Linked DNA regions of Homo sapiens: all the other regions are reported to be linked to region 4. The links are microRNA targets in miRTarBase. Many come from high-throughput screens and were not tested one by one. Region 4 holds a microRNA gene; each other region holds the end of a gene's coding sequence.

Region 1 (7,115 bases), not on the chromosome of region 4:
TCCTGAGTAGCTGGGACTACAGGTGCACACCACCACGCCCCAGTAAATTTTTTGTATTTTCAGTAGAGACAGGGTTTCGCTATGTTGGCCAGGCTCGTCTCGAACTCCTGGCCTCAAATGATCCACCAGCCTCGGCCTCCCAAAGTGCTGGGATTACAGGTGTGAGCCATATTTTATGCCTTTTATCAGGGCATCCTCTGTAGGTTTACATGACATAAAATTGCCCAGAGGGCAACTGAAGAGCATCACTCTACAATTTGGGAGAGGTAAAGGGAAAAGAATCAGATGGGTAAGATACATAAAAGGTATATAGCTATGAAGTTGTTCAATACTCAGTACACACCGTGGTTAAACACAGATGCAAAAGCCGGATTGCAAGTTTGAATCTTGGCTCCATCACTGCACATCCTTGGGCTGGTTCCTTAACCTCTCTCAGTCTCATATCCCATAAAAAAAAAAAAAGAATTAAATTAGTCAATATAAATGTAAAAGTTCTTACAACTAGCTGGCACATAGAAAGCTGTTAGCAGGCAGGGCATGGTGGCTCACATCCATAATCCCAGCACTTTGGGAGGCCAAGGCAGGCAGATCACTTGAGGTCAGCAGTTCGAGACCAGCCTGGCCAACATGGTGAAACCGCATCTCTACTAAAAATACAAAAATTAGCCAGGCGTGGTGGTGGGCGCCTGTAGTCCCAGCTACTCAGGAGGCTGAGGTGGGAGAATCACTTGAACCTGGGAGCGGGAGGTTGCAGTGAGCCGAAATCATGCCACTACACCCCAGCCTGGGCAATAGAGTAAGGCTCTGTCTCAAAAAAAAAAAAAAAAAGCTGTTAGCAGTTGTAGCAGAAACATGGTTTTACCCATGGAATATCCATGGGCTTCCCCTTATTTCTTAGCCTCCCTTGTGTTGGGTCGGGACACGTGACCTACACCAATATGCTGAGAACAAGTGTCATTTGAGGACTGAAGCAGGTGAGAGCTGATGCATGCTTGCCAACTTTTTCTTCCCATCACTGAAATTTCATGGAAACCATGTGGTGAGATGGTAGAGACACAAACTGGAAGTAATCCAAATCACTGAGCGGCCACATGGAGAACAGTCACCCTGAAGTCACCCAACTTGTATCAGATTTTGTAAGAAATAAACCTTTGTTACATTAAGCCACAGAGATTTCAGAACCTGTCCTGTCCTGACCGATGCAGCTATTATTAAACTTGTAATCAAGAATGATTAGTCTGAGAAAAGGACAGCAAATTTTAGAAAATTAGGAAACATTTGCTGAGTACCTAGAATGTTCCAGACATCTTGTATAGTGCCTTATCTTCTCTAATCTGGGGGTGGTTTTTGGCACCCAGGGGACATTTGACAATATCTGGAGATATTTTTTGTTTCACAACTGAAGGGGTTCTGCTGGCATCTAGTGGGTAGAGGCCAGGGACACTGCTACAAAGCCCTATAATGTATTAAGTGTACAAAAGGAAACCCTCCCGGCCAGGCATGGTGGTTCATACCTGTAATCTCTGCACTCTGGAGTCTGAGGCAGGCAGATGGCTTGAGCCCAAGAGGTTGAAGCTGCAGTGAGCCCTGATCGTTATGCCACTGCACTCCAGCCTGGGCGAAAGAGCGTCTCAAAAAAATAAAACCTCTCTGCTGTTGGTTTCTGTGACTGGCAACGTTGGGTTGCTTGGCTCAGTATTAATAGTCAAGCAGTTAAGTAAATAAGCACAACTCCATTAATCCAGAATAAAAATACTGTTGGCAACCCATTTAAACATTGAGTCTAAGCACTTGAACATGAGTGTTGCTTCATGTTTCTCCAGTTTGGGAAATCTGTATTTGCAGTTGGCAGAGATTAGGAGTTGCTACACTTAGCAATAAGGAGAGTAAAGCCTTAACAAAACTGGATACAGTTTGTTAAGCCCTCCAAACTGACATGTTAAGATGGAGATGTTTACCAGACATCCAAGTCAAAATATCAAATAAGCAATTTAATGACTACAGCTCAAGAGAAATGGGTTTGAGATAGAAATTTGGGTCTTCAGTATAGGTAATAAAGCCTGGAAATGAATGTGGTCTCACCAATAGAATGTTAGAGAAGTCCAAGAACAAAACCTTGGTGATATGGTTTGGCTGTGTCCCCACCCAAGCCTCAACTTCAATTGCATCTCCCAGAATTCCCACGTGTTGTGGGAGGGACCAAGGGGGAGGTAATTGAATCATGGGGGTCAGTCTTTCCTGTGCTGTTCTCATGATAGTGAATAAGTCTCACGAGATCTGATAGATTTATCAGGCTGCTTTTGCTTCTTCCTCATTTTCTCTTGCCTCCACCATGTAAGAAGTGCCTTTCACCTCCTGCCATGATTCTGAGACCTCCTCAGCCATGTGGAACTGTTAAGTCCAATTAAACCTCTTTTTCTTCCCAGTATCAGGTATGTCTTTATCAGCCGCATGAAAACGGACTGATACAGTATATTGGTACCAGGAGTGGGGTGCTGCTAAAAAGATAACCAAAAATGTGGAAGCAACTTTGGAACTGGGTAACAGGTAGAGGTTGGAACAGTTTGGAGGGCTCAGAGGAAGACAGGAAAATGTGGGGAAGTTTGGAATTTCCCAGAGACTTGTTGAATGGCTTTGCCCAAAATGCTGATACCAATATGAACAATAAGGTCCAGGCTGAGGTGGTCTCAGATGGAGATGAGGAACTTGTTGGGAACTGGAGCAAAGGTGACTCTTGCTATGTTTTAGCAAAGAGACTGGCAGCATTTTACCCCTGCCCTAGTGACTTATGGAACTTTGAACTTGAGAGAAATGATTTAGGGTATCTGGTAGAAATTTCTAAGCAGCAAAACATTCAAGAGGTGACTTGGGTGCTGTTAAAGGCATTCAGTTTTATAAGGGAAGCAGAGCATAAAAGTTTGGAAAATTTGCAGCCTATGTGATAGAAAATTAAAATGCATTTTCTGGGGAGAAATTCAAGCTGGCTGCGGAAATTTGCGTAAGTAGCAAGGAGGCTAATGTTAATCCTCAAGACCATAGGGAAAATGTCTCCAGGCCATGTCAGAGACCTTCATGGTCTGGACATGGAATATCTACGTCAGAGCCCATGGATATTCCACGGGTAAAACCATGTTTCTGCTACAACTGCTAACAGCTTTTCTTTTTTGAGGCAGAGCATTACTCTGTTGCCCAGGCTGGGGTGTCGTGGTGTGATCTCAGCTCACTGCAACCTCTGCCTCCCAGGTTCAAGTGATTCTCCCATCTCAGCCTCCTGAGTAGCTGAAACTACGGGCACCCACCACCACGCCTGGCTAATTTTTGTATTTTTATTAGAGAGCCCTTCCCATCACAGGCCTGGAGGCTCAGGAAGAAAAAGTGGTTGCGTGAGCCAGGCCCAGGGTCCCTGTGCTGTGTGCAGCCTAGGGACTTGGCACCATGTCCCAGCCCCTCTGGCCATGGCTGGCTGAAAGGGGCCAATGTACAGCTTAGTCTGTGGCTTCAAAGGGTGGAAGCCCCAAGCTTTGGCAGCTTCCACGTGGTGTTGAGCCCGCAGGTGCACAGAAGTCAAGAATTGAGGTCTGGGAACCTCCGCCTAGATTTCAGAAGATGTATGGAAACACCTAGATACCCAGGCAAAAGTTTGCTGAAGGGGCGGGGCCCTCATGAAGAACCTCTGCTAGGGCAGTATGGAAGGGAAATGGGGGGTCAGAGCCCCACACAGAGTCCCTACTGGGGCACTGCCTAGTGGAGCTGTGAGGAGACAGCCACCGTCCTCCAGACCCCAGAATGGGATCCACTGATAGCTTGCACCATGCACCTGGAAAAGCCACAGACACTCAACACCAGCCCATGAAAGCAGCCAGGAAGGAGGCTGTACCCTGCAAAGCCACAGGGACAGAGCTGCCCAAGACCACTGCAGGCTGTACCCTGCAAAGCCACAGGGGCAGAACCCACCTCTTGCATCAGCGTGACCTGGATGTGAGACCTGAAGTCAAAGATCACTTCGGAGCTTTACAATTTGACTGCCCTGCTGGATTTCAGACTTGCATGGGCCCTGTAACTGCTTTGTTTTGGCCAATTTCTCCCATTTGGAACAGCTGTGTTTACCCAATATCTGTACCCCCGTTGTATCTAGGAAGTAACTAGCTTGCTTTTGATTTTATAGGCTCATAGGCAAAGGGACTTGCCTTGTCTCAGATGAGACTTTGTACTGTGGACTTTTGGGTTAATACTGAAGTAAGTCTTTGGTGGACTATTGGGAAGGTATGATTGGTTTTGAAATGTGAGGACATGAGATTTGGAGGGGCCAGAGGCAGAATGATATGGTTTGGCTGCATCCCTACCCAAATCTCAACTTGAATTGTATCTCCCAGAATTCCCACGTGTTGTGGGAGGGACCCAGGGGGAGGTAATTGAATCATAGGGGTGTCTTTCTATGCTATTCTCTAAGTCTCATGAGCTCTTATGGGTTTATGAGGGGTTTCCTCATTTTCTCTTGCCGTCACCATATAAGAAGTGTCTTTTGCCTCCCGCCATGATTCTCAGGCCTCCCTAGCCATGTGGAACTTTAAGTCCAATTAAACCTTTTTCTTCCCTGTCTCGGGTATATCTTTATCAGCAGCGTGAAAAGACTAATAAATTAAGCTGAAGGAGGCCGGGTGCAGTGGCTCACACCTGTAATCCCAGCACTTTGGGAGGCCGAGGTGGGCAGATCATGAGGTCAAGAGATTGAGACCATCCTGGCCAACATGGTGAAACCCTGTCTCTACTAAAAACACAAAAATTAGCTGGCCATGGTGGCGCACACCTGTAGTCCCAGCTACTAGGGAGGCTGAGGCAGTATAATCACCTGAACCCCGGGAGGCAGAGGCTGCAGTGAGCCGAGATCATGCCACCACACTCCAGCCTGGGCAACAGAACAAAACTCCATCTCAAAAAAAAAAAAAAAAAAAAAGTTGAAGGAAGAATGAGGGAGAGAATGAGAAGCAAGGAAGCACAATACTGCACGATGGAAGCTAAGTAAAGTGGGCTGGGTGCAGTGGCTCACACCTGTAATCCCAGCACTTTGGGAAGCCAAGGCAGGAGGATCGCTTGAGCCCAGAAGTTTGAGACCAGCCCAGGGAACATGGAGAAACCCTGTCTCTACTAAAAACAGAAAAAGTAGCCAGGTGCGGTGGTGTGTGCCTGTAGTCCTAGGTACTTGAGAGACTGAGGTGGGCCGACTGAACACGGGACACGGAGGTTGCAGTGAGCTGAGATCACACCAGGCCACTGCACTCCAACCTGGGCCACAGAATGAGACCCTGTCTCAAAAAAAGTGCTTCAAGGAAGGAATGGTCAACCCTGTCAGAGTACTGAAGGTCAAGGAGGAAGAGGATGAGCTTTCTCAACCTGGACCACATTGCTGATCTTGACATACAGCTTCAGTGGCACAGCAAGCCTTGAGGGTTTTAACAGTTTAAAAAAAAAAAAAAAAAAAAAAAAAACAGGAAAAGCTCATCCAGTCACTCTTTTGAGGAATTCTATTAAAAAGGAACAGAGAAATGAAACAGTAACTAGAGACAGTAGTGGTCTGAAAAATAAAATCCTGAGTCATATTAAATATGAGGGTTTTTAAGGTCATCTAGTTGTATTGTATCAGAACAAGCAAGGAAATCCCATAATGTTCTTTCAACTGTTTTTACCTATAAGATTTTGCAACCAAAGACTTTCGGCTAAGATGGCCACAGGACATTTAACTTGTAAGGGCTAGTATGAAGGTACTACAGGTATAATGCACATCATCTAGCCCACCAGGAAGGAAATATGCTTAATAACTTGCCCCAGGCTGTCCCAGGACAAGGATCTCTAGAGAAAAGACAACCTACAGACTAGTTGCTTGCTGTTTTCCAAAACATTTGTTGGAAGAAATCACATGACACATGTATCAGGAACATTTTCTAATTATGTATATAAATGGGTATGTGATATGTGTGCTATTTGTGTGCTAATGTCCTAAGTGAAGTTCTGCAGACCATCTGGGTCAAAATGCATTTCGCATGATCAAAAATGAAGAACCACTGGTTGTCACGGAGACAGGGAAAAAAAAAAGAATGGGGAAAAATGCATGACAGAGTCTTTACTTTTAAATGATTATCGATACACCAAGTAATACATGTAACAAGTTCTTGAATTCTATCATCTAGTAATTTTGATTAAGAGAAACTAAAAGCAGCCCAAACAATTCCACTAGTATTCACTGTTCTAACCATTAGCAAGAATGGACTACTTTAAGGCTGGCTGCTGCTTCACACAGGTTACAAAGAACTATTTACTACTTTTTCATAGATAAAGCCCCTGACCTTCAAGAAAGTGTTAGGGAAAAAAATTATTTAATCCCTTCCTTTCTTCAAAGAATTGTTATGTGGTTTTTTTTTTTTTTAAACTAGATCTAAGAAAGAAAAAGTCAACACTGATATACATGTTGCTTGAGCCAAAAGACATAGGAAAAAAAGACAACATATAACCATTAAATTCCTAAGAAATATGAGGTAAAAAGATGAAATCTTTAGATAATTTCTAAGTCTGTACAAAAAAGCTAGATTTGCTACTCTCCAAAAAGTGGAAGGACCTATTATATAATATATGGAAATAATTTAATGCCATATCATAAGAATGTAACTAGAGCTGTGCTAAGCTTCATATTCGTGAGGGCATCTAAAATGCCACTCCACAGCACAGGTGCTTCTCTCTTCTATCCATTTATGCGGTAGTTTTCATGGATTTCTGGCCGAATGTCACAGACAAAAGCCAAGAGGTTGTCCAAGACTTCATCCCTGTTCTGCCGGAAGTATGTCTGGAGGATGGTCATCTTCTCCTGGGTCTCCTTCTCCACTTCAGTGCTGCAACTGCCACGGGATCCCAATGCCTGGAGATGGGGAGTGATGTCACGGAGGGATTATCAGAACAATGCTCTGGTTGGTCAGGTACATTTCGTAAGCTACTTGTTGACTTTTGGAGAAACCCAGGCTCACCTATCAGTATACTCAGAAGCTGGCAATATGACCTCATGGCTGGAGCACATGTGAGGTATTCTCAGAGTTAACAGGAGCCACATCTACCAAAAGTAAACTACA
Region 2 (7,103 bases), not on the chromosome of region 4:
ATGGGCAACCAATGTAGCTTTGGTGATGACAGGCATCTCACGAACCGGGTGCTGAGCCTGGGCTATGCAACAAAATACACAGCTCGATCTAAGTGCCTTACTGAAACACCTATAGAATATCTCAGATGGCTAAACCAGCAGACCCGTTGGAGCAAGTCCTACTTCCGAGAATGGCTGTACAATGCAATGTGGTTTCACAAACATCACTTGTGGATGACCTACGAAGCGATTATCACTGGATTCTTTCCTTTCTTTCTCATTGCCACAGTAATCCAGCTCTTCTACCGGGGTAAAATTTGGAACATTCTCCTCTTCTTGTTAACTGTCCAGCTAGTAGGTCTCATAAAATCATCTTTTGCCAGCTGCCTTAGAGGAAATATCGTCATGGTCTTCATGTCTCTCTACTCAGTGTTATACATGTCGAGTTTACTTCCCGCCAAGATGTTTGCAATTGCAACAATAAACAAAGCTGGGTGGGGCACATCAGGAAGGAAAACCATTGTTGTTAATTTCATAGGACTCATTCCAGTATCAGTTTGGTTTACAATCCTCCTGGGTGGTGTGATTTTCACCATTTATAAGGAGTCTAAAAGGCCATTTTCAGAATCCAAACAGACAGTTCTAATTGTTGGAACGTTGCTCTATGCATGCTATTGGGTCATGCTTTTGACGCTGTATGTAGTTCTCATCAATAAGTGTGGCAGGCGGAAGAAGGGACAACAATATGACATGGTGCTTGATGTATGATCTTCCATGTTTTGACGTTTGCAGTCACACACAACACCTTAGTTCCTCTAGGGGCTGTACAGTATTGTGGCATCAGATAATGCCACCAAAGGAGACATATCACTGCTGCTGGGACTTGAACAAAGACATTTATATGGGTTTATTTTCATTCTGCCAAAGTAAAACAATACATCAACAAGAAGAAACTCAGATTTAACCTGTTATTTCTATGAAAATGGGATGAATTCTTTGTTTATGCACTTTTTCCTTACTGTGCATCCGCCTGAAAGTGTTTTGCCCTATATACCTCACTAGCCATGCTTTATGTGGGTTATCATGGAAGAAAAGGATTTTGGAAACTCAAGGAAAAGTTCTTTCAACCTATACAACCTAACTTATGGACTGTTTTGATAGATGATAATTTTTTTTTTTTAGGAAGGATTTTCTTTTTAACTTTACCAAATGAAATGCCAAAGGAAGTTTTAAAGGCCGTTGGCTGTGCTGTATTTTGATATAATTGTACTGTGTTTTTAAATTTTGTATGCCAATCTTAAAGACAAATTTTGCATATTCTCTATTTTACTTTTCTGCCAAAATAAACCTGTTCTTCCTTTTTTAAAATAAAATAAGTTCTTAAAAAATTTATACTTAAAAAATCCTGCCCAAAATGTGAAGCTTGGTTGACTGATGTTCATGATAGAAAGAATAAAATGTTTCTCTCTCTCTACCTTTTAAAATTGAATAGTTTATTTCTGTGAAAGAAGTATTTAAACTTTCAATATTTTAACTTTTTGTTTTTATTTCTTTTAGAAAAGGCCAATATACCTATCACACTTTGGAAGTAAAAATACACACTTTCGTGTGTACCTAAAAAAAAAATCGTTGAAAATCAAGGCCAAAGGTAGTGCAATTTTTTCATTAAGATTTAAAAAAAAGGGAATGATAGTCTTTGAAAGAAAACAGTAGGCATCCAGCACTGGACAAAACATGGGTATCAAAGATGAATAATCTTTGGAGATTCTGGCAGTGTTTTCCCAGAACAAGTCAAGTGGAAAGTGGAGAAATTATCTGTATAATTTTGGACACATACAATGCAGTTTATCAAAGGTTTTGTTCTGTGGCCTGAATTTACTGGGTCCTACCTACACATTGAACATGTTTTGCCTGTCTTTTTTTTTTTTTTCAACTTGCCAGTTCACTTTACATGTTAGTATAATGTTTACACGGGTGAGTTGGATAAATTATAAAACATATAAATTCAAAATTGGCAGATAGAATCACCAAGTATCTATCCTCTTTTACTTTCAAATGAGGAATTTTGTTTTTCTGAATTACACAGATCATCACTTCCTATTTCCTGTTCTGGACCTGTATAAAAATGTCTACACAGTAGAAGTGACATCAAGGTTTAATAAGTATATCAATGATTGGCACATATAAAAATTGTTGAACCACATACTCTGAACTTGGCTAATTTAGTTACTGCAAGGCCTCCATTATCCAGTTTTATTTTTTACACGATTGACCTTGCCTTGTAGCTGGTGCTGTGTAGACCTGTGTTGAAAACACAATCGGAATATATGAATAATTGAATAAACAGCATTATGGTGAGGCAGAGACACATGGAGAAGTGTTAAAAAAAAAATGGGCTTCCTGCCTTTCTGCCTCTTTTTTATGCAGTCATCTATGTTACATCTATCCTGCCTAAGAAAAAGCTGCACATCCTACCTTCAGAGTACAAAAAGGTACATCTGAGACTCAAGACTCTCACTGATTGGAGAGCTTGTGGAAAACAAAACACACCATGCCAATAAATGAGATGAAAACTTGAGTTTGCCTTTTTAACTATTTATGTTCTAAGTTAAGCTTTGATAACATTCAAATGTCAAATTCTCTCATTCTTATAAAAAGTTGAATTAATTGCCTGTATTTATTTTAGCAATTATTCAATGTATTTCCAGTATAGGATGTATAGTATAATTAATTTTTTGTAAATAAAATATTTTTGATAAGATTATTGCCTTTTTTTCTAAGGGAAGGGGGAACTTTGTTTTCCTGATTATAATGGTATGAATTTAGGAAGGGGGGGTTTTAAAAAAAATGATGGTTGGTAAAAAAGAATATGTCATTTAATGTTACTTATTATTAGGTAGAAATCCCTAAAACTGGTGTGGTTTGAAAATCTGGAAAACCACAGAGAGAGGAGAGAGACTGCTTAATTATCATTACCCTTGTCTATAATCTTTTTCTTCTGCTTCCCTTGAAAGCAGCACAAATTTAGACAATTTTTTAAATTATAGTAACTTATAGCAGGAAAAAAAATCAAAGATATGCAGAAATATGATAAGCAAGCTTGTTTATTTCAGCATTATTCAGAAATAATAAAACCTTAACCTAAAATCAAATGATGAGGGCAATAATTAAATAAATCATGGCATTTCTAAAAAATGGGACATCATTAGCTATTGAACACAATGTTCTCAGAGAACACGTGGATTTTGGAGAAATGTCACATTAAAAAAATAACCATTTTGTACAGTAACATCCCAATTTTATAAAAGTGAAGATGTTTAAACATGATTATCTCTAATACTGGGAATGACTGATTTATATTCTGTATATGTTTTTGTATTTTCCAAATACTATAAATATGTTTTTATAATCAGGAAAAAAAAGACAATAAATATCATCTTTTTAAAAAGTGGGTTGGGACATCTAACAGCATTTTCTGATTAGAGGAACTTTGATAGTAATTATCTCATTTTACCTCTTATCCCTCAAATTCATCTTATTTCCCAGTTCTTTTGTGTTATCTGTTTTCTAAGAATCCTTCATTACTTTTGTACTGCTACATTATAAACTATAGCCACTGAACATTATTGTCAGATAATCCAGAAATATTGATGGTTCTAAACTTAATAATTCACTGATGAAGTCACTTGGTGACAGTCTTTTAATGTAAAGAGCCTTAAAGTATACATTTTAGGACTGGGCATGGTAACACACGCCTGTAACTCCAGCAGTGTGGGAGGATTGCTTGAGGCCAGGATTTTGAGACTAGCCTGGGCAACATGGCAGGACCCAGTCTCTACAAACAATTTTTTTTTTTAATTAGCCAGGTGTGGGCGTTGCCTGTGGTCCCAGCTACTCAGAAGGCTGAAGTGGGAGGATTGCTTTAGCCCCAGAGGTCGAGGAGGCTACAGTGAGCTGTGTTTGCAGTACTGCACTGCAGTCTCGGCAACAAGAATGAGAACTTATCTCAAAAACAAAACAAAACAAAACAAAACAAAAAAAACCCCCACAAAACTATTCTTAATTCACCAGCATTACCAAAACAGGCAACAAGCCAGATATATCCTGCAGCCCATAGTTAATGACCCCTGCTCTTTAGAAATCTGTGGACTTATCTGTACCATTAAGTACTCACACTGACACCTAATTTTTGAGCACATACTATGTTTTAGGCACTACCAGAAGCATGCTTTATAGATTAGTTATTATGTCAGTCCCAAGAAGTTCCATTATTATTACCATTTTAAGCGAGGAAGCTGAGTGAAGTTTAAAGAAATTTGGTAACTTAATATTATAAAGCCAGTACATTGTAGTGGTGGAATTTAGGTCCAGACATTATGACATCAAGCTTGCCCCTTCAACTAATGCTACTCAGTATTTCATCCACTGTCCGGCAGCATCAGCAGCATGTGGGAATTTATTAGAAATGCAAGTTCGTAGCTTTACCCCAGGCCTACTGAATCAAATTCTCTGGAGAATCTGTTTAATAAGATTCCCATCCAGGTGACTTTTAAACACATTAAAGTTTGAGAAGCATTGCCCTAATCTAGTATCTTATATTGTTCCCTTCAAACCGCATATCATTTCGAAGATAGTTATTCATTCAAATATTGTATTCTCCCATTGAACTTTTCTACTTTAATATAATTTATGGGTGTTGGCAGATATCTGGTTTTAACTAAGTTTATTAAGTACCTGTTATAGGCTGGGCACTGTGGCTCACGCCTGCAATCCCAGCACTTTGGGAGGCCGAGGTGGGTGGATCACTTGAGGTCAGGAGTTCGAGACCAGCCTGGCCAACATGGTGAAACCCCGTCTCTACTAAATATGCAAAAATTAGCCGGGCATGGGGACTTATGCCTGTAATCCCAGCTACTCTGGAGGCTGAGGCGCGAGAATCACTTGAACCCGGGAGGTGGAGGTTGCAATGAGTGGACATCATGCCACTGCACTCCAAACTAGGCAACAGAGTGAGACTCTGTCTCAAAAAAAGAAAAAAGTTCCTGTCACGGGCAAGAAATGAAGTGGTGTACACTGTGTCTATACTCAAAGAGCTTACAATTGAGTAAGAGGGATATTTACACTGTAAGTAAGAGGGTAATTACACTGGGATTTGATGTGAAATAGAATAATACTCTTTATACAGAGTGGCATGGGATGTAAAAAGAAGAAGGTGAACATGTACAATTAGCCTCATAACGGCAGGTTTTAAGATAGCCTGGTATTTAGGTTGATTCTTTAAAGACGTGCAAACTTGGATGGGAATTAATGATTTTTCAGGTAAAAGAACATGAATACAGCGATAGTGGTGTGCTTTTAATATGTTGTCCTTTAAACAGAATTAACATTTAATTAAAGTGGAAGTTGTAGTTAACCAAGAGTGGGACATGACTATAGATAGTAAATTTGAAGGCCGGGCATGGTGGCTCACGCCTGTAATCCCAGCACTTTGGGAGGCCGAGGCAGGCGGATCACCTTAGGTCAGGAGTTCGAGACCAGCTTGGCCAACACGGCGAAACTCCGTCTCTACTAAAAATACAAAAATTAGCCGGGCGTGGTGGCACATGCCTGTAGTCCCAGCTACTCAGGATGCTGAAGCCAGAGAATTGCTTGAACCCAGGAGGTGGAGGTTGCAGTGAGCCGAGTTCACGCCATTGCACTCCAGCCTGGGCAACAGAGCAAGACTGTCTCAAAAAAAAAAAAAAAAAAAAAAACAAGTAAATTTGAAGATGGACGATAGAAGACCATAACACAACTGGGAGAAATACTAGAATGAGATATTTACATTACTTTTGATAGATGACACACCCATGGAATTTTTGGACAGGGTTCTAACATTGTCATAAAATAAGGCACTTTATGATGTTTGGTTTCAAAGATCTCACAGAAACAATTGTGTTTATAATTACGATTTGGCCTGAGCATGCTTGTAATAAACTGGTATTTCTCTCCCAGGCACCTGACCACATTCATTGTATTTCTTCCAAGGCTGCCTCTTGCTTTACATTCTCAGGTCATCGCCTCTTGCCAATTACCCAAGCACTCTCTTCAGCTTTGTTTTGGTATAAGAAGCCCGCAACCAGCTAGTTATTATAGTCATTTGATCCCACCTTTGCCATGTCATTCAAATTCATCTCTCATCCTTGTTAAGACTTTTTAAATCTCTTACCTGAACTGTTGAAAATACCTCCTGATGGCTGGGCGCAGTGGCTCTCGCCTGTAATACCAACACTTTGGGAGGCCGAGGCGAGCAGATCACCTGAGCTCAGGAGTTCGAGACAAGCCTGGCCAACATGGCAAAAACCCGTCTCTACTAAAAATACAAAAATTACCTGGGCATGGTGGCATATGCCTGTAGTCCCAGCTACTGGGGAGGCTGAGGCAGGAGAATCGCTTGAACCAGGGAGGCAGAGGTTGCAGTGAGCCAAGATCACGCCACTGCACTCCAGCCTGGCACAGAGTGAGACTCTGTCTAAAAAAAAAAAAAAGAAAAAGAAAATACCTCCTGACTACCTTTCTATTCTCCATTTCTGTTTCATCCAATGGATTCTTTGCATTTCTGTTAAAATTATCATTCTAAGGCCCAATTCTGAATACAAAGATTTAACTTCACCTCATTGTCAACAAAAGCATTAAATATGTAAGAAATTATTCAAGACTGATGATTATCTATTTTCTCCCTTGCAGTCCTTTACTCCTATTTTTCATGTCCTACTAAACTAGATTTTTTTGCTCCCTCTTGAACACACTTTGCCCTTCTCCTCTGTTAGCATTTGCTCTCAATTTTAAATGGCTTTTCACCTTTGCCCTTCTCTTTTATCTTTGTGAGAGGGTATTTGCTCTCAATTTTAAATGGCTTTTCACTGTTCCCCCATTCTTATACCTACTTGTCAAAATTCTTCCATATTCTTCATTTTACTAGCATATCCTTTACCCAATACCTCAATTTAAAATGATTTATTTACCTTCACTCTTAGTGTTCTATTTTTATCTCTGTCATGCAGTCCAGACTTTCTTCTGTCTTGTTTTATGAATATTAGTGCACATGATAACAACCTGGTGGACGAAAAGGTTTCTGAGGCTAA
Region 3 (7,120 bases), not on the chromosome of region 4:
AACCCCCAAATGAAAAGGAACAACAAGCAAAACCCACCCCCAAGAAATCAAAAACAAAACAAAACCAAGAACAAAAACTGAACACCTTTCAGGTCATTAGAACCAACAATTACCCAATGATTTTTATACTAGTCTAGCAAGATGTGTGTAACATTCACTGGCTGTGATTGCTGTGCAGTGAAACAGTAAATTGACAGCAATAGAGCCATGCTACCTTAAAGTCCAAGCTACAAGTTCAAATTAAGATGAAGGTTATGAAGGATAAAAACGCAAAGGCCTGCTGGGGCTTTGTTTGAATCAAGCTAATGGGCGACTGGGATAGAGCGCGAGGCTGTTTGGTATAGAGCGCGAGGCTGTTTGTTCCCAGTGGATATAAGGAAGGCCACGAGCCAAGTCTGTGGAAGCTGCTAGAGAGCAGACCAAGGCTTGGTCATCTCCGTCAGCCCCATGCCCAGCTAGGACCGGGAATGGGTCCGGGAGCTAATGCCACTCACTCGCCTCTGCTTGGGAGGAGAGGAGTTCGGGGGTCTCAGGCAGATGGATCTGGAAGCCAGAAAGTCACCCGGTGGCTGTTTGATAATTCCGGGGAAAAGCCATCAGCCAAGAGGGTTTCTCCCCCAGGGAAGGCGAAAGGTGGTTCCCATGTTCGCCATTGAGCTTAACTGAAACAAAGACGAGGCTGAAACATCAGTGTTAAAAGAATTTACAAAAATCTTTCAAAATGGACTTCTAGATGGAATGGGGGGACTAACGTGAACCTTAAACCTAGGTAGCCACATTAAAACATATCGGATTTCCACAAGATTTGTGCTATGGGCTACTGGGTCTCTTCAAAAGGTATATAAACATCTAAAACATATTCACACAGATTATCAATTTCTTCTGAGCATTCTTAAAAAAATATTTTTTCTCTTAGTAAAATCATTTTAATATACCATGCCTCCCTCTTTTAAAAAATAAATTAAAAAAATCCAGTTTTGCATATCTAGCATTAGCATTTAAGGTAGTATGGCACCCCTTCACAGTGGGTGGGGGGGGGGGGATCTACAAAACGCCGTAGAGTCCGCCGGCATTTTAACATGGTGAGACCTTGGGTTAGTTGAAACCACATCAGATCAGCTAAAATAAAATTAAACTTGAAATTGAAAAAAATAATTAAAGGAAAAAACTGCCCCAAAATTATTAGCATTTTTTTTCATAAATAAGAGAAAGTTCTATCCTTACTGGTCCTAAATCTGAATAACTATGTCTAATTTTTTTTAAACCTTAATTATGTTATACCTATCAATATGTACTAGAAGAAAGAGGAGAAAAAAAGTCGCTACACTAGTACCAGGACAGCACGCTTACAAGATAGCCATTTTATACATTATTAACATACAATGATCAACAAAGAGTCTTCTATGAGGTGATGGGGGATGCAGAGAAAAGGAAGGGAAGTACAGTACATCACCAACATGGACAAAATAGGAATTAAATTCCCTCGTCTAAACACTGAATTTCTGGGAATTTACTATTTTTTCTTTCTTTTTTTTTTTTTAAATAAAACTTATGTTTTGTTGTTTTATGACTTGAACAAGTTTTGATATTTTAAAAGCGCTCAGCATTTAATCTGGTTGTTTGGGGGAAAAGAAAAGAAACAAAGAAAGGAAAAAAACAACAAAAAAACCTCACCAAACAACCTAACATTTTATTAGAAAAACAAAGAACATGATTTTTTTTTTAATTAAAAAAAATGTTGTTGCTGTTTCATTAGAATTGAAAACGGGTTTTTTCTTTCTTTCTGAGTTAGCATTTTGGAGTCTTTAGTTTGAAGATGCTTTTGCCCTACCATGTCTGTGAATGTCTACATTAGTCTACTTTGTTAGTAAAATTTATAAAAATAGGAGTGCAGCAGCTCTTTATAATAAATGTCGCATTCAGTGTCTCATACTGGCTGTGCCTTAAGTACCAAATTTATAAACGTAACAATTTAAAAAATATTAATAAAACGTCAATATCACATTTTAAAAAAGAAAAAATATATATCCACACTACAATATGTTTTAATGCCATCTATTGAGTTGTACTTCTATAGTTGCTGTTGCCGACCTATTACCAATATTTAAAAAAAAGTTAAATTAAAAAATATCCTTCATCATAAGTATCTTTCCCCAACCGAGGACCATATATTATAACAGCCAAATGTTAAACATGTGCAAAGAGGAAACTGTCAGTTTTTCCCACCAGTCACAGTGCAGTGATGTTTATACTTTTTATTTTTAAAATTCTGTTTACATCTACAATAAATTAAAAAAAAATTCTTCCATAGCCTCTCTGGTGATACTTGCAGCACTGAGGTATTAAAAAAAATATATATAAACCAAAAGGTTGCTTTCCTAATTTGTAAATAGAAAGTGAATGGAGAAAGGTTGTATTAATGCAGGCTTATCCACTCCTGGCCCATGGGCCCCCAGATGTGGGAGCAGGGTGGGGGGCAGGGGGAGAAGAGAGGCAAAGTGTCCTAGGGACCTTTGGAGGTGCTGAAATGATTGGACAATAGAAAATGATCAAATATTTAAAAATTAAGACTGAAAAAGAATGTCCCCCCCACCCCACCCCCACCCAAGCCAAACAGGTGTGCTTTGAAACTTTAAATATGTTAAATATTAAAATTGTAGCTTTGTTTTTAAAAAACATCTTGGGAAAAGCAGTTTTTCATATTTTAAATAAAAATCTAACTAGACGGTAACATTTGAAGCTGTGCACAGACAAGAGGTTAATAGGCTGGTACAACACTAATACAGTTCTTAGGTCTATCACACAGACAAAGGAGCTAAACAGTGCTCTAACTTGTCCTGGGGTGGTCCTGGCAGCTGGGCGATCTTCATCTCAGTAACTGACTTGGCCAACGTTCCCTTCCCGCCTCCTTCCACAGAGCATCAAACTGCCTGGGACCGACTCCCTCACAAAAATATTTTTGATTCTCTCTTTCTTAATAGTTTCTATGTAGTTAATGGAATTGTATTTACAACATTTCTTTTTTAGAATTCACAATTTCAAAAAACCTTATAATATCACCTCTTTCAACAGAAAAAAAGCACTTATAGAAAAGGAGGACACTCAAAACACTGTCGTCCTTACCTTATTGCCGAAAATAGATAGACTCAGATTAACAAAGAGACATCACAAAAAGAACTGCTAGAAAGTCTGTTAATTAGCTTACTACATCTCACTTCTTCTACAACGCAAAATAGAAAGCTCACGCCCACCTCCCGCCCTGCACTTCACAACTTTGCTTCAGTGTGTGCTAAAGTTCCACCTGAAAATTCATACAGTCTCAGAATTGGTACCAAAATATGGAGAGTCATATTACCATCTCAGCATCCTTTAAAAGTGAGAACAGAACCAAAACAAGCAAAAAAAAATGTTTTAAGAAAAAATAACTCCTTAATATAACAATTATACTATGGTTAGCTTTGAACTAGATATTAAAGCTATGTGACTACTGGACTAAGTCAAAATCACTACCAAATGTGATTCAAAGAGATTTAAAAGGAGAATGGGAAGAGAGGGAGGGAGAGGGAAACCATCAAGAAAAACAAAACAAAACAAAACCGAAATCATGGGTTATATACACATTTAAAAGCTGTTGTCTTATATTACAGCAGATTCGTGAGATGATGAGATGTAGTCAACCCTCGATCCGAAGTGAGCCATCTCTGGTTGGGATGGGGAGTGAGGCTGGTGGGGGTCCAGGTCTGAGGACATCACCTAAACAAAGGGCCACTCAGAAACTTCGCCCAGTCTTGCCTGGACATCCAGGTATGCTCTGCAGGGCAGGGAAGGCCAGGATGTCCAGAAGAAAACATAAAATGGAGGGGAGAGGGGAGGAGAAAGAAGTGTCAGACAAGTATGCGATTTCCTCCACTGTTTTAACTAGAGTTTCAAAGATGGACTTCACTGGACTATTGAATACGCACGAGAATCACCTGGCTAGAAGCTTACTGAGATCACAGGTTGGGAAATCTGACATCTAAACCATACCTGACACTGGGGAGAGGACAAGGCTTCAATTCTTTTGCTGATTTGATATAGTACCATAGGGTTGTTGAGGTAGTGGTGGGAAATGTGCTTACAGGGATTGCAGCCAGGTGGGCAAACTGCCCATTGACCTGAGATACCTTTTTTCTGTTTAAACTTCTGTTTTCAAAGCTAAATGTTAAAAAAACAAACAAACAAACAAAAAAAACCCCACAAACTTGCCTTTATTAGATACCCATCGATAACTTTTAAATGCAAACTTACACTAAAAGATCATATCATATACCAAAAACTAAAGGTCATGACACTAAAAATATACAACAAATAACCGGCTTTGGTTACAGGAAACAAAAACAGGCCCAGGATTCACAGATGTGTTTACTGAGTCTCCCTGAATTGACTGGGAGTAGGGGGCCTGGGCTCCTCTTTTGTGGATGGCGCTGAATGTCAGAGGGTTGGGGACAATGGGTGTGTTTGACCAGTCCTTCCTAAGTGCTGCGGGTGCAGCCATCTGACTCTATGAGCTCACCTAATCCATTTTGGAAGGGGGTGAGTTGCTACCACACTCTTGGTTACTTCATCCTTCTCTGGAAATTGAGTCCTAGACTTAGATGAGGGAGGATGGGCTGGTAGCAGCCTCCCCCATCCCATTCCACCCCACCCCACCCCTATGGAAAGGCTTTAGTGGCCTTGGGGTTATATGGAGCTGTGGGCAGGAAGCCCTGCACCACTCCTTCTCTTCCAGGGGAGGGAGGGAGGGAGCACAGGCAGCCCCAGTGTCTGGCCTTTCAAGGGTCTGCTGTGCCTGGTAGTTGTTTAACCCCCTCTTCATCTGACTCCACAAAGGGCTGGAGCCATCTTCAGTCTCCAGAGTTCTTGGTGATACCAGTTGTCCCTGTTCTCAGAGAAACCTTACTTCCTCTGGGTCCCCAAACCCAGCTTAATTAGTAGCAAGTAGCTTTCCTTCAAACTGTTAGTGGCCTCTGGCTCTGGCCAGCAATGGCTGGGTCAGTGCTCAAGGGGAAGTGGAGGCGAGGGGTGGGAGAATTCACACACATGGTTTATTTGGTTAAGAGAGGCAGTTGCGTTAGTTGAGGTGATCCCTTAGCAGCAACATTAGAGAAATCCAAGAGATTTATGGAGCTCAACTCAACCCAGTTCTCCACCTGGTCCGACTCAGGAGCCAGGAGCAATCCCTCTCTACGAGAGAGGCATCCAATGAAGTGCAAGCCCAAAGTGGCCAGTTCATCTCCAGCCTTGCTTCTCCTACATCCCAACTCCAAGATTGAAAGGCTTTGGTGCCTCTGTGGGATTTTCCGAGTGGAATCCATTCCCTGGCCTCAGCTGTCACCCTCTCTTTTCCAGAGACAGATCCATGTTCCAACCTCACAAACTTAACGTGCTAACACAGTACACATCTAGCGCTTTCACAAGGACAACCCCTCTCCCTTGCTGGTGTTCTTCCCAAGAAGGACAGATACTCATTTCCAAAGGAGTGTGTGGCAAGGGGCTTCCTCACTGCCCCAACCTCCCTCTCCTCTCTTCCGTCCTCCCCCATATCCCCATCAAAGTGATTGAAAAAATGTTTAATTAACTTGAGCTCAGTTTAAAAGGTTAGGAAACTGGCAGGGATCCAAATCCATGTTACACAGGTGATGTCGTTAATTTAATTTGCTTTTCGTGCAGTAATCTGGATAATTACTCAGTAGTTACTGGCAAAAACGTTTTCTTTTCACTAAAAGATGGAGTCTGGCTGTTTGACTGCATGAACCCCATTGGCTGAGCCCCAGCAAGGCCTGGGGAGCTGAAGGGGCCCAGCAACCCACAGGGCCAGCTCAAAGGACCTCCAGGAGTGGGTGGCCCTGGCCCCCATCCCTGCTTCCAGGCCTAGCAGAAGCCCAATGCTTCCCTGCCTCTATCCCCCTGGGACGGGCACAGCACGAGATCTCCTTCCAGTTTCCCACACTCTTGATTGTATTTCAAGACAGAGAAAGATGAAGGGTGGGGAAGATACAGAAAAAGAATCCAAAGAACCAAATCAAGAAAAAAAGAGAGAGAGTCAAAAAGGTGGGGGTCATGATTAAAAGCTGGAGGAAGAGATGAGAGATTAAACGACTGGATTTGCTTTTGCCCCCACCCTCCTGAAAAGGGGTCCAGAAAGAGGAGAGAGAGATGTGGATGTGATGAGACAGGGGCACGCACGTGCATGTATGACCTGTGGACATACATGTACGGACACACCGGCAGGGCAGAGACACATGGCAGAGACGGTAATACCTCAGAGTGAGATGGCAACGAAAGCACCTGCTCAATGGTATCCATTTGTAAAGGCCGTTGCAATCAAAGGTCCCTAAAATTGCACAATTGTTAAGGTCATCAGTGTGCTATACATGGGAACAGATTGTCATATTCTGGGAAAGGAAATTATCTCTAGGACTAGTTCTGTGGTTGCCAGCATGAATATGTAATTCTGAGACACCGTGCCATGAGGGGCCAGGATGACATCCTCCTCAGCTCCAAATCCCTAGTCCCCACTCCCTCCGCCCCTACCAAGCCTATCTGCTTACCCCGGGGGAAACCAAAAGCCAGATTCAGAGGCGTGGGTGGATGGTGGGAAACGGGGGTTTGTGCCCCCAGTGATGGGCATGTTGCCCTGAACCCCAGAGTGCAAAGATAAGTCTCTGTCCGCAGTCCCAACGGCTCTAGCTGGGGAGAAGAAATCCCAGTGCAGACAAACTGGGATGCTTTCTGGTTATTTCAGAAAAACATCACAGCCCACAGGTCAAAAGACCCCGGTTTTCAAGAACAAATTGGGTCTGTGTTTCTGGATGCTGAATATGGAAATAAGTTGTGTTATAAGTGGTGATAGACGGTCCCCTAAATTGAGCAGCTCTCAGGTGAATAATATTATTCTGGATTTGGTACCACAGTTGATCCGAAGGGATTAGATTCATCAGACTACTGACTTAAGTGATACTGGCTTGGGAGCGGAGCTGAACAAGGACCCATCCTGCACAAGTAGGGCTGGCAGGCGTGTGTGCGCCTGTGTGTGCGTGTGTGCGTGCGTGTGCGTGCATGTCTGTGTGCGTGTGTGCAT
Region 4 (7,119 bases):
TGTCTCTCTGTCTCTGTCTCCCTGCTTCCCCGCTGTCTCTGTCTCTCTGTATGTGTCTCTCTGTGTGTGTCTGTCTGTCTCCCTGCTCTTTCTCTCTGTATGTGTCTCTCTGTCTCTGCCTCTCTGTCTCCCCACTGTCTCTGTGTCTCTGTCTCTATCTCCCTACTCTCTGTCTCCCCACTGTCTCTGTCTCTTTGTTTGTCTCTTTGTCTCTGTGTCTTTGTCTCTCGGTCTCTGTCTCCCCACTGTGTCTCTCTATCTCTGTCCGTGTCTCTCTCTCTTTGTCTCTCTGTGTCTGTCTCTCTCTCTGTCTCCCCACTGTCTCTGTCTCTTGGTCTCTGTTTCCCCACTGTCTCTGTCTCTGTCCCTCTATGTCTGTGTCTCTCTCTGTGTCTGCTGATCTCTCTCTCTCTGTCTCTGTCTGTGTCTCTCTCTGTGTCTGCCTCTCTCTCTCTCTCTGACTCTGTCTGTGTCTCTCTCTGTGTCTGTTGGTCTCTCTGTCTCTGTCTCTCTGGCCCTCTGCCTGTCTCCTCCTTCCCTCTTGCAGAACCGAGGTCAGGAGCCCAAGGTCAGGGTTTGCATTATGTGTTTCCCAGAAGCCTCGCCGGGCAGCTGTAAACGGGGAGAAACGGGGAGAAACAACGGGGAGAAACAGGGAGGGCTGATGCTGGGCGGAGGCCCAGGATGGGGGGCTCTGCAGGGGCCTTTTGAGCCCAGGCCCCCGAAGTGTGATGCTGGGGCTCTCTGTGTAGGTTCTAGGTGTCTGGAGGAGTGGGGCCCCTCCCCTGCTAGCCCCCCAAGGACTCTTCCTCGGATCCTCGGACCTCATGGAGGTGGGGGACCATGGGCGTGTGTGAGTGAGGGTAAGCATAAGTGTGTGAATTGTGCATGCGTGTGCGGATGTGAGCGTGCCTGCAGGAGTGAGTGTGGGTGAGCCTGAGTGTGTGAATTGTGCATGCACGTGTGTGTGGATGTGAGCATGCCTGCAGGAGTGTGCGTGAGCCTGAGTGTGAGCATGCGTGTGTCTGAGCTCCACGTTCCCTCCTCCCCCAGAAGGCAACCCTCAGCCTGCCAGCAGGTGGATGGAGCCCAGCAGCCCCCCGTGCCCACTCTGGGCCTCGTTGTGGGGGACCAGCCCTGAGCAGGGCCTGTCCCCAGCCCCATGTCCCCACCAGGAGGGCTTGTGACCGACTGATGTGCTCCCCCCCACCCCTCTGTGGCCATCGCTGGTCGTGACAATCACCTGCTTGGCCTGGCGTGCAGATCAACGGTTTGCACAAGGTGGGGGCAGAGGCTGCTCCCATGGGGGGTCTGCAGAGTGGCCTGGCAGGTGGCTGGGTCATCATCCATCGTCCATCATCCCCATGGTCCCTATGGCTCCTCCTGCCCAGCAGGGCCCACTCGTCCTTCCCCAGACGGGGCTCCTGGCCGCCTCGGGGGCCATCAGGAGGGCGCTGGACAGTCTTGCAGCCCCACCTGGCCCCTCATGCCCCCCACGCCCCTCCCCACTCAGGGGACAGGAGACTCTCGCGTACAACAGTCAAGGCCCGCTGCACCTGGGGGGTGTGTGGGTCCATTGTGTGCGTGTCTGTGTGTGTCTCTGTGTACATCTGTGTCTCTGTGTGTCTACATGTCTGAGTGTGTCTCTGTCTACATGTCTGTGTCTCTGTGTGTGTCTATGTGTGTCTGTGTGTGTCTCTGTGTGTGTCTATGTGAGTCTATATGTGTCTACGTGTGTCTATGGGGGTCTCTGTGTGTCCCTGCCGCATGTGGGTGCTGCGTCGGGTCAGTCCTGAGACTCTGGCCCTACAGATCACAGGTGCTGGGGCCAGGCGCCCGCACGGGCCTGCCTAGCGACGTTGAGTCTCCCCGAGGACATGGTCACTGAAGAGGCCTCTGAGGCCTCAGCCTTGTTCCTTCACCAGCCTCCACTTGCCTACGTCCTGGGGAGAGACCGCTGGCTGGGGTTCAGAAGCCCTGTCCCTGGCCACCTGTGGAAGCCCTGTGCCCTGGCCTCCTCTGGGCCTCTTCCTTGTGTCCTGAGCCTGGGACACAGGGACAGCCCCAGACCTGCAGGAGTTCTGCTGCCTGCCTGGGCCCTTCGGCCGGGGGCTCCCTGGCCCTAGGAGAGGGTGTCTGCCTGCCTGTGTGGTCTCGCTCTGTGTGGGCAGCTGTGGGTCTGGCCAGCTGTCCCTGAGGGGCCCTCTCCCTCCGACCCTGCACTCTTGCCCCCAAGGCTGCAGAGCGTGGCCCCTCTCCACGTGCTCGCGGGCTCTGTGGCCCGGGGAAGGCTCTGGGCCTCACTGGACCAGTGTCCGCCTGATGCCGTGAATCCTCAGGGAGCCCCAGCTGTGGAGGCCGCCCCAGGCCAAGCAGGGCCACCTACCCTGGGGGTGGGGTCTGGTTCCCAGTGGCCAGGACAGTGTTGGACACGCTGGCTGGGGGTTCTGAGAGTCCCTGTGAGCCAGGAGGCTGCGGGTGCAGCCCAAGGTGCTGCTTATTGCTGAGCTGGGCAGGCCCAGGAAGGAGAGTCGGCCCCTTCCCTGGACAAGCGATTCTTGCTCACGTGTGCTTTCCGGGCCCCTGACGCAAGCAGAAGCGCGTGGGGAGATAAGGGTTGGAGGAGGCGGGGGGACAGGCTGGCCCCATCCCAGCTCCCGGGCCAGCAGCCCCCGGCCCACAGCCCTCGCCGCCCGCCCGCCCGGCGGGCCCTGGCTCAGCACTCTTCTCACAGCAGGTCTTTGTGCCCCAATCTGGCAGGTGCGGGGGTGCGACGGGGTCCTTGGCACAGAGCAGCCCTCTGGTTGCATGTGACAGCGGCGGCCAAGGTCTCCCCTGCGCATAAATGTGGAGCTCGCTCGGCAGCAGCAGAACTCCCGGCTCAGAGAGTTCTCCACCGCTCCTCCCAGGCTCACGAGGCTCACGGGCTACCCAGCGCCAGCGGCCCAGGAGGCTGGACCACAGGTAAGACGAGGCCCAAGGCCTGCCTCTGGGAACTCGGCCCTGGCTTGGCTCTGCCCTCCTCACTCCCACAGGATCTCCGTGCCCACCAGGCCTCAGTCCCGACTTCTCCCTGCTGCCCGGCACGGGACCCTCCCCCAGGACAGCCACCTCCCAGTGCTGAAGAGCCGGCCCGCCTCAGAGCCGCCCGCCGTTCCTTTTTCCTATGCATATACTTCTTTGAGGATCTGGCCTAAAGAGGTATAGGGCATGGGAAAACGGGGCGGTCGGGTCCTCCCCAGCGGCACCTGCACCAGTGCACCTGCACCTGCTCCAGCAGCACCTGCCTCCTGACTTGGGACTCCACCTGCTTCCTTTCTCCTCGGCCGGGAGCCCCGGGGCTTTGACCCCCACATCCTTGGGGCAGAAAGGGGCCAAATATTCTAAAACAAGGGAAACGTGGATGTGTGCTTTTGTGTGGGTTCTGGAAGTGTCTGGGGAGGACGTGGTCCAGGCCTCTGCCCTGGGTTGATCTCTGCAGCCCCTGAGCTGGGACCCAGGATGCAGAGAGGAGGGCTGGAGCTGGGCGGTGCTCTGTGACCAGTCTGACCGGAGTTGGGGGTGGACCCATTACAGGAGGTGGCGGGAGGGACAACCTGGGCTCTGGGGCCGCCTGGTGGTCGGGGGAAGTGGGGCGGGGTGCCTGGGATCTGGGCTCTGGCTGGGAGGATCCACAACTCATTCTTTGGACATTTTCTTTGCAGACTACGAAGCTGCACCGTGTGGGGCCCACTTTTTATACAAGCGGGTGGCGGTGGATCCAGGCGCAGACGGGAGTGAGGCGTGGCGGAGACGCGTGCACGCTGGGTCTGTGCACTTTTGCTGCTGCTGCTTTTTTTTTTTTTTTTTTTTTTTGAGATGGAGTCTCGTTCTGTCACCCAGGCTGGAGTGCAGTGGCGCGATCTCGGCTCACTACAACCTCTGTCTCCCGGGTTTAAGCGACTTTCCTGTCTCAGCCTCCCAAGTAGCTGAAACGACAGGCGCCTGCCACCATACCCGGCTAATTTTTTTATTTTTAGTAGAGATAGGGTTTCACCTTGTTAGGCTGGTCTTGAACTCCTGACCTCATGATCCACCTCACTCGGCCTCCCAAAGTGCTGGGATTACAGGCGTGAGCCACAGCGCCCGGCTGGCTGTTGCTTCTTAACACCTTTATTACTTTTGTAATCATGGGTATGAGTTGATTTTCTGGTCAGAAATTTCAGTAGAGCTAATTTCATTTAAATGTGTGAGATGTGGTAAAGTTTTGACAATAAATACAAATTTTGACAAAGCAGCTCTGTCGTGCTGGTCTCCTCTCGTTCACGGTGGTTGGACGTCACATTAGTCACGTGTGGACTTGGGGGAACTTAGTTAAAAATGCATAAACACGGGGGGATGAAACGGCTCCTGGGGCCTCGGTTGGGGGCCTGGGCTGGGCACCGGTCTGGGGCCACCCTTCTGATGACCAGAGCCTGGGACCGGCCGGCAGTGTTGGGAGAGCCCAGAGGGACGGCTTGTGAGGGTGGGGGGCACTGGTCTGTCCTGGGCGGGGGCCCCGCAGCTTCCAGGCCTCCACAATGGCCAGGGTGGGACTGCGGTCTTGACTTCCCACTGAAGAAAAATGGACAGGGGGTCCCTCATCAGCCCTGTTTAAAGAATGACAGTCGGCTGCTGTCTTAAAAGGAGGCCTGAACGGGAGTCGGGGAGGCCCCACCCTTCAGCCAGAGTCCTCGTCAGCCGGCAGGGCCACGCCCAGGTCTTTGAAGGCCACAGCCTTTATCACCAATGAGCCCAGCAAATGGAGCAATGAGCTGGCTGAGAGGCCCCCAGGCCGGTTATCAGGGGCTGCCTCCCCAGGCTGCGCCTCCTCTCCAAGCCTAGCACTAATCTCATCTGATAGTCACCTCCCACCTCCCTCACAGCCCGCAGCTGGGGTGTCCGAGGGGAAAGATCAGGCAGCAGGCAGAGGGGTGGGGTGCTTCCGGCCGGGGGGCCGCAGGCCACATGTGGAAGGGCAGCCACGCCCCCCACCCCAACGAGCTCGGCTGCTCCCCCTGCCCCCTAGGGAACGGTGGAGGTCGGCCCTGCTGGGGAGTCTCTTGCAGGCCTTCGAGTCACTCTCCACAGGACACCTGAACATAGGGCTTTAAAGCTGCACAGATAAAGCAGGTATTACCTCGCTGTGCTGTGCGGACATGCAGCAGCAGCTGTTACTCCAGACAGTGTCGGCAGAATGGGGATGCAGGCACGGCTGGATCCAGGGAGCCAAAGGCTCTGCCTCACTCTGCGCTCGTACCCCGCCTGGCTCCGTCCCTCCGCCTCACTCTGCGCTCGTACCCTGCCCAGCTCTGTCCCTGCAAGGCTGCGGTGTAATTAACAGCACCTGCTGGGCTGTGAAAGGAGAGGCCCCACTCTCCAGTATGGTGCCCATTTCCCCAGAAGAGCTGTGGTTCTGAGGGCTATGCCCTCCCTGGGATCTGGGCTGGGTGAGCTGGGCCGTGTGCCCTCACCTGTACTGCAGGGTGGGCGGCTTGCTGGGCAGGGAGAGGGATGAATTCCCCCAGGAAGATGGGCAGGGCTCCTGCCAAGACCCCACCAAGGTGGCTGTCCAGGCTTGCCAAGACATGCCCACGTATCAGGTCCAGCCACTGAGACCCTGCTGAGGGCATTGGAAGGAGCACAGGGGCCAGGACGGGGCTGGAAGGCGTCCCAGAAACGGAGGCCTCCTGGCCACAGCCCCCCGGTCCTGAGGCCGTTGTCCTGTGAATGGTAGGTGGGGGCTGAGGGGCACCATGGGGGAGTGGCTCACTGTGGCTTCTGTGGACAGCCAGGCTGGGAATGAGGGTCCTCCTGGCCTGGGAACAAGAGGAAGCCCTCTGAGACCCTGCCTTGGGGAGTACTCAGGAGCCCCAGGAGTCCCCTGAGAAGCTGACCGCCACTCTGGGGCATGAACGGAACCTTTCTGAGGTGGGGGTGGCAGAGCCTCCCAGCCAGGCTGCAGAGGCAATGGGGGGAGGGCCAGCGCTTCTGGTACTTACCTTTTTTTTTTTTTTTTTGAGTTGGTGTCTTGCTCTGTTGCACAGGCTGGAATGCACTGGCACGATCTTGGCCCACTGCACCCTCCGCCTCCCAGGTTCACGTCATTCTCCTGCTTCAGCCTCCAGAGTAGCTGGGACTACAGGTGCCCGCCACCGTGCCCGGCTAATTTTTGTATTTTTAGTAGAGATGGTTTTCACCATCTTGGCCAGGCTGGTCTCGAACTCCTTACCTCATGATCTACCTGACTCGGCCTCCCAAAGTGCTGGGATTAAAGGTGTGAGCCACCGCGCCCGGCCCAGGTGATTTTTCTTTGACTGGGGGCTGTGCAGGGCCCCACCAAACACCCCTAAAGGAGGCCAAGGCCTGCTTTTGTTCAGTGAGCCCACTTTGCTCCAGAGGTCCTGGCGTGGCCTAGGAGGCCCTGAGCACTCTGCCACTTCCTCACGGCCTGGAAGCCGACAAGTCTGGGCTCAGAATGGGAGTGAGTGCTGGGCCTCGGAAGAGACGCTGGGGCCGGCTAGGGGCCGAGTCCAAGCAGCCTCTTCCCTGCAGTTTCCTGGATAGTCTCAGGTGCAGAATTGAAAAGAGAAGTGCACGAGCCCCGTGGACTCCCCACGGAGAGGGGAGTGGATATTCTGCCATATTTACGTCATGCTATGTCTTGAACCCTTTGAATGTCAGTTTCAGATCTGAGGCCCTGAGCGCTGCCTCTGGAGACAGGGTGTTCTCCACACCCGAGGACACGGACCACTCCCCAGCACCGTCCCGAGCCCCTCGGAATCATCCCCACCAGCTGTGCAGGGCTGTGCTTTCCCACACTTCTTTGTCAGGGCTCATGTGTGCACCTGCGGCTGCGTCTCCCCAGCCTCTGCATCAAGGGCACCCCGCCCTCTCTCACAGAGGCTTCTGCAGGAGCCCAGCTGATCACCCTGGGAGCCCCCGAGGGCACCCCACCTTCTCTCACAGAGGCTTCTGCAGGAGCCCAGCTGGGCGCCCTGGGAGCCCCCGAGGGTTCCTGTCCACTGGAAGTTAGATGTGCAGGTTCCCAGAGATTCTTGGCAGGACTATTTCATAGCGACTGCACCTCCCACCTGATCC

What was found. The annotated mature microRNA hsa-miR-202-3p reads AGAGGUAUAGGGCAUGGGAA and lies in region 4 at 3,198-3,217, shown strand. An mRNA with a match to its seed (bases 2 to 7 or 8) in the 3' UTR can be bound and repressed. Matches are read on the target gene's strand: a 7mer-m8 pairs with bases 2 to 8, a 7mer-A1 pairs with bases 2 to 7 and ends in A, and an 8mer does both.
Region 1: miRTarBase lists ATP6V1G1 as a target of hsa-miR-202-3p. Seed matches in the 3' UTR shown: 7mer-A1 at 6,527-6,533.
Region 2: miRTarBase lists HAS2 as a target of hsa-miR-202-3p. Seed matches in the 3' UTR shown: 8mer at 1,030-1,037.
Region 3: the mRNA of MSI2 is a reported target of hsa-miR-202-3p. Seed matches in the 3' UTR shown: 8mer at 2,336-2,343.

Annotation. Positions count from the first base shown.
Region 1 is chr9:114,597,362-114,604,476 of GRCh38, reverse strand. ATP6V1G1 (ATPase H+ transporting V1 subunit G1) reads right to left here. Exons shown (of 3, transcript NM_004888.4): 3 at 5,598-6,907. The coding sequence ends at 6,734. It also overlaps a transcript of TMEM268 not described here. Among named protein-coding and RNA genes, the nearest start is that of TMEM268, 10 kb to the left of the region's middle.
Region 2 is chr8:121,607,753-121,614,855 of GRCh38, reverse strand. It overlaps HAS2 (hyaluronan synthase 2), which reads left to right. Exons shown (of 4, transcript NM_005328.3): 4 at 1-2,740. The coding sequence ends at 747. Among named protein-coding and RNA genes, the nearest start is that of HAS2, 30 kb to the left of the region's middle.
Region 3 is chr17:57,676,240-57,683,359 of GRCh38, reverse strand. It overlaps MSI2 (musashi RNA binding protein 2), which reads right to left. Exons shown (of 14, transcript NM_138962.4): 13 at 6,301-6,373; 14 at 1-3,811. The coding sequence ends at 6,332. Among named protein-coding and RNA genes, the nearest start is that of CCDC182, 65 kb to the left of the region's middle. RefSeq lists an enhancer at 6,649-7,120.
Region 4 is chr10:133,243,636-133,250,754 of GRCh38, reverse strand. It overlaps MIR202 (microRNA 202), which reads left to right and starts at 3,135; the gene lies at 3,135-3,244. MIR202HG (MIR202 host gene) reads left to right here and starts at 2,870. Exons shown (of 2, transcript NR_108079.1): 1 at 2,870-2,964; 2 at 3,705-4,276. RefSeq lists enhancers at 1,948-2,462, 2,979-3,493, 5,062-5,914, 5,246-6,445, 6,767-7,119 and a silencer at 3,579-3,698.